Regions from separate parts of the Homo sapiens genome. Here region 1 is linked to region 2. Evidence: fine-mapped expression QTL. A gene starts in region 2. The other region holds a variant in brackets. All regions are shown on one strand. Distances are from middle to middle. Region 1 overlaps CACNA1A (calcium voltage-gated channel subunit alpha1 A). Region 2 holds the start of GET3 (guided entry of tail-anchored proteins factor 3, ATPase).

The links. PIP is the estimated chance that this variant, and not a neighbour inherited with it, causes the effect. A credible set is the group of variants that fine-mapping cannot tell apart.
Region 1: its variant is the best candidate, but not a certain one, in a credible set for the expression of GET3 in stomach (GTEx, PIP 0.62).

Annotation. Positions count from the first base shown.
Region 1 is chr19:13,249,320-13,252,229 of GRCh38, forward strand. All of the region lies in intron 30 of CACNA1A (calcium voltage-gated channel subunit alpha1 A), which reads right to left. Among named protein-coding and RNA genes, the nearest start is that of IER2, 100 kb to the left of the region's middle. The variant G/A (reference allele first, on the strand shown) is at 1,611.
Region 2 is chr19:12,735,816-12,738,725 of GRCh38, forward strand. GET3 (guided entry of tail-anchored proteins factor 3, ATPase) reads left to right here and starts at 1,682. Exons shown (of 7, transcript NM_004317.4): 1 at 1,682-1,851; 2 at 2,696-2,843. The coding sequence starts at 1,691. RefSeq lists a cis regulatory region at 1,036-1,893, a silencer at 1,118-1,217 and enhancers at 1,230-1,825, 1,608-1,667, 1,788-1,847.

The DNA.
Region 1 (2,910 bases), 510 kb after region 2:
GAGGAAAAAGGTCCATTAGTAGGATCCCTTTCCTAGCATTTATTTATTTATTTTGATACAGGGTCTTGCTCTGTCACCCAGGGTGGGGTGCAGCGGCTCAATCACGACTCACTGCAGCCCTGACATCCTGGGCTGAATCCATCCTCTCACCTCAGCCTCCTAAGTAGATGGGACTGCAGGTGCACGCCACCACACCAGGCTAATTTTGTACTTTTTGTAGAGACAGAATCTCACTATGTTGTCCAGGTTGGTCTCAGACTCCTGGGCTCAAGCGATCCACCTGCCTCAGCCTCCCAAAGTGCTGCGATTACAGGTGTCAGCCACCGTGCCTGGCCCCTAGCATTTATTGAGTGCCCATGCCAGGCCAGGCTTCATCCTCAACCCTCTAGATGCACGTTAGTCCATTTGCTGTTTACCAGGGCTCTGCTGAGGTGGAGGGGGAGGATGGCTCCTTTTAATGATGGGGAGGTGACAAAGCTTATATAGGACGAGGCAAGATCTGAACTCTGGTGCTAAAGCTGATGCCCCTAACCACCTCCGTGAGCCAAGGTGGGAACCTGGTTTCCTGAGACCCTGGCTGAGACCCAGACTGTAGGTCACTCTCTTCAAAGGGATGGACTAAGCTGGTGGTCAAGAGAACAGATGTCCTGGTTCAAGTCCCACCTTGGCCACTCACTGGGGACCTTCAAGAATTCACTTCACTTCAAGTCCCAGCCCACTAGTATAAGCCTTCTTCACCTTAATTTTTTTTTTTTTTTGAGACAAAGTCTCACTCTGTCACCCAGGCTGGAGTGCACTGGTGCCATCTTGGCTCACTGCAACCTCCGCCTCACAGGTTCAAGCGATGCTTGGGCCTCAGCCTCACGAGTAGCTGGGATTACAGGCACACGCCACCATGCCTGGCTAATTTTTGTATTTTTAGTAGAGACGGGGTTTCACCATGTTGTCCAGGCTGGTCTTGAACTCCTGACCTCAAGGGATCTGCCCTCCTCAAGCTCCCAAACTGCCGGGATTACAGGTGTGAGCCATCACACTCAGCCCCCAATTTTTTAAAAAATAATTTTAATTTAATTTAATTTAATTTATTTATTTATTGAGATGGAGTCTCACTCTGTCACCCAGGCTGGAGTGCAGTGGCAAGATCTCGGCTCACTGCAACCTCCGCCTCCCACGTTCAAATGATTCTCCTGCCTCAGCCTCCCGAGTAGCTGAGACTACAGGCATGCGCCACCACACCCAGCTAATTTTTGTACTTTTTAGTAGAGATGGGGTTTCACCATGTTGGCAAGGGTGGTCTGGATCTCTTGACCTCATGATCCACCCACCTCTGTCTCCCAAAGTGTTGGGATTACAGGTGTGAGCCACCGCACTCAGCCAACTATACTTTTGTGTGTGTGCTATGAACCTTGGCCATGTGAGAATAGTGCTGGCTATTTTATTTTATGCATAAAGGCTTGTAAATGCATAACAAAATAGCAAGGGCTTCAAGGTTACCTTTTGTAATAAAATAGCTATCAAAATATTTTTTAAGGCTAGGCACAGTGTCTCATGCCTGTAATCCCAGCATTTTGGGAGGCTGAAGCAGGCAGATTGCTTGATGCCAGGAGTTC[G/A]AGACCAGCCTGGCCAACATGGTGAAACCCCGTCTCTACTAAAAATATAAAAATTAGCCTGGCATGCTGGTGTGCATCTGTAGTCCCAGCTACTCAGAAGGCTGAGATGGGAGAATCGCTTGAACCCAGGAGGTGGAGGTTTCAGTGAGCCAAGATTGTGCCACGGTACTCCAGCTTGGGCAACAGAGCAAGACTGTGTCTCAAAAAAAAAAAAAAAGTTTTAAAAATGGCGATCTAACAATGAATATACTTCTCCATTAACACACTGAGTAGGCCGGGTGCGGTGGCTCCCGCCTGTAATCCCAGCACTTTGGGAGGCCGAGGCGGGCGGATCATGAGGTCAGGAAATCAAGACCATCCTGGCCAACATGGTGAAACCCCATCTCTACTAAAAATACAAACAATTAGCCAGGTGTGGTGGCAGGCACCTGTAGTCCCAGCTACTCGGGAGGCTGAGGCAGGAGAATGGCGTGAACCCAGGGGGTGGAGCTTTCAGTGAGCCGAGATTGCGCCACTGCACTCCAGCCTGGGCAACAGCGAGACTGTCTCAAACAAAACAAAACAGAACAACAACAAAAAAACACTGAGTAACAAATTCTAGCTGTAGGTTTAATCACAAGCAACATTTTAAAGCAATGATGAATGCAAATTAAATGTTAAGGTATCTGCAGCTCTTATAATGCAGTATGAAAATATCTGATGTTTATAAGTGACACAGGTCATGTTGATAATATTAAGGGTTGATAATACTAATACTAAGGGTTTGTTATCTCCCTTTAAGATGGAAGGAAATGTTAAAATTTAGTTAGTGGCTGGTGAAAAATAAAGACATATTTATTTTTATTATTATTATTTTTTTGAGACTTGCTCTGTTGCTCAGGCTGGAGTGCAGTGGTGTGATCTCAGCTCACTGTAACCTCCACTTTGTGGGTTCAAGCGATTCTCCTGCCTCAGCCTCCTGAGTAGCTGGGATCATGGGCACCCACAAGCACGCCAGGCTAATTTTTTGTAGTTTTAGTAGAGATGGGGTTTTGCCATGTTGGCCAGGGTGGTCTCGAACTCCTAGGCTCAAGTGATTTGCCTGCCTCTGCCTCCCAAAGTGCTGGGATTACAGGTGTGAGTCACTGTGCCTGACCTCTGTGTTTGTTTTTTAAAGATGGAGTCTTGCTGTTGCCCAGGCTGGGGTGCAGTGGCATGATCATAGCTCACTGCAACCTCCACCTCCTGGGCTCAAAATATCTTCCCACCTCAGCCTCCTGAGTAACTGGCACTACAGGCACGAGTTACCATGCCTGGCTAA
Region 2 (2,910 bases):
CCAAGAATAATCTCTATGAGTGGAAGGACCTCATCTGGGGCTGTGTGCTCAGCTGACACCTGGGAACTTGAATCCCTAACTGGGGAATAGAGAGCATGTCTAGTCTGGGCCCCCCAAGTAGAAATAGGGGTATCTTTGGGTTGGGTAACCATCTCTGGGATAAAGCTCACATTTGTTGGGGACATAGCTGGCTCTGTGGAGCTGAAGTCCCCGTCTGAGAATCAGCTTACTTTTTTATTTTATTATTGTTATTATTACTTTATTTTATTTTGTTTTATTTTATTTTTTGAGACGGAGTCTCTCTCTGTCGCCCAGGCTGGAGTGCAGTGGCGTGATCTCGGCTCACTGCAACCTCCGCCTCCCGAGTTCAAGCGATTCTTCTGCCTCAACCTGGTCTCGATTCCTGACCTCGTGATCTGCCTGCCTCGGCCTCCCAAAGTGCTGGGATTACAGGCGTGAGCCAACGCGCCCAGCCTATTTTATTTATTTATTTAGAGACGGAGTTTCACTCTTTCACCCAGGCTGGAGTGGAGTGAAGTGGCGCAATCTCGGCTCGCTGCAACCTCTGCCCTCCGGGTTCAAGCGATTCTCCTGCTTCAGCCTCCTAAGTAGCTGGGATTACAGGCGCGTGCCACCACGCCCGGCTAATTTTTGTATTTTTAGTAGAGACAGGTTTTCACCATCTTGGCCAGGCTGGTCCCGAACTCTTGACCTCAGGTGATCCACCCGCCTCAACCTCCCAAAGTGGTAGGATTACAGGCGTGAGCCACCGCGCCCGGCCCGAGAATCAGCTTATTTTATGAGCTGTAGTATTCAGATGAAGTCGGGGTTATTTCTAGTCTGTAGTCTCCCTCTAAAGTTAAGAGTGTCATGGGCTGGGGTCTCCATCAAGGGCCTGGAACCCAGCTTCTGTTCCTGCTCTAAGACAGAGGTTCAAACATGAAATATGGTATACTGGAGTCTTCTCTTGAAATACAAGGAGACTTTTAGGAATTCCTTCTACGAAACGGAGCGCAATTGCAGGAATGGTGTCTGCTAGGCATGGGAGATCAGGGCGTACAGGACAAGACTCTGTGGACTCGCCCACTCTAAGCCACTATCAGCCCGGGGACCTATCGCCAACCGAGTCAATTCGTCTATGATTGGTTTGCGGCAAGAGCCAAGAGGCTCACAGCCTATTGAATAACAGAGGGGGCGGACCTGAGGTGAGGTTGGGACCTACCGTGAAGAATAGAGGGAAAATGATGGACATAAAGTTGAGCCTATGGAGTCAGGCCAAGGAGGACCGGGAATCTAACTTCACCGAAAGGGCATGGACTGGGTGTTTGGCTGGTTGCTAAGGTGAGGTTGGCGCTACCGGAACATAAGAGTGATTGGTGTAAGTAAGAAAAGACATAGCCAATGAAAGGAGAGCTGCAAGACCTAGGGCCCAATCAGTGAAAGGGAGTAGCCTAGACCGTACCGATGTGTTCATTAGGTAGGGGGAACCCTTGGAAAATTATAGACCAGAGGTTGACAAAGTGAACCCTGGAAGCAAAGAATAGTGAAAATATAATTTATATTTCTCCTAAAAGGCAAGTAATGAGGAAATTAACTCATGCTCCTAGCTTCGCTAGGAATGTGATAGAGAATTTCCCCTGTAGGTTCTTCGTATGGTGCGCTCCGCTGGATCACGTGAGCCAGTTCCAAAATGGCGGCAGGGGTGGCCGGGTGGGGGGTTGAGGCAGAGGAGTTCGAAGATGCTCCTGATGTGGAGCCGCTGGAGCCTACACTTAGCAACATCATCGAGCAGCGCAGCCTGAAGTGGATCTTCGTCGGGGGCAAGGGTGGTGTGGGCAAGACCACCTGCAGGTAAGGAGGCTGCGGCGGGGGCCAGGAGGCGTGTAGGATATACCACTGGGCGAAGGGGAGGCCAAGGACCGGCTTTTCCACCACGACCGGGGCATGGGGGCTGGCGGGGGTCTTTGGGTTTCACTCTCTGGAAGTTACCTGGAGCAAATGAGAAAGACCTCAATGCAGCCCTAGCACCCTCTGAGTTGGACCATCCGTGTTGGGGCTCAAGTGCCGAACCACAGTGAACTCAGCGCCCGGGGGACGGGGAAGCACTTAGATATCCCCATCAGCTGGACCGTACCTGAGTGAATCCAGAGTTGTGGGTGAGGGCGGCACCAGAACAAGCAATCCTAGTTTGGTGAACCTTGGTGTTTTATGCCCAAGGCGAGAGTGAGGGTGGAAAGCGAGGGAGAGAGCACGTGATGAGACTGTCCCAGGCAGCTACAGGCAGGAGGTGTCCGTTGGACAGATTATCCTGGACAAGCAGACTGAACCATCCTGTGCTTACTAGGGAATGCAGGAGACCCCTTAGCTTATTAAGGAAGGGGGCACGGAGTCAAGCTATGCTGGCTGGACCGCTGGGCCATGCCACTGTGCCCAGCAAAAAAGAAGCAGGCACTAGGCCAGACAGACTCAGTCAGCTGAACCTTACCTCTCTAGTCCACATAGAGGGGTCAGGAGATAAATCAGAGAGGGTTCCTTTGTAGGGACTGAGGCTCAATCCCACCATAACCCATACTCTCCTCTCAAGGCCCCTGCTGATTCGGGTCACCTGCTCCAGGGAACCTACCACTCCCCTTGCAGACCCAGGGAACAGAGCCCATCCCCTCATCCCCTATCTTTTGACTTTTCCATTACTCAGCTGCAGCCTGGCAGTCCAGCTCTCCAAGGGGCGTGAGAGTGTTCTGATCATCTCCACAGACCCAGCACACAACATCTCAGATGCTTTTGACCAGAAGTTCTCAAAGGTGCCTACCAAGGTCAAAGGCTATGACAACCTCTTTGCTATGGTGAGTGGAACAGGGCTTAGCCCCCACTTCTGGGAAAAGCCTCTTCCAGCCTTTCTTGTGCGCACAC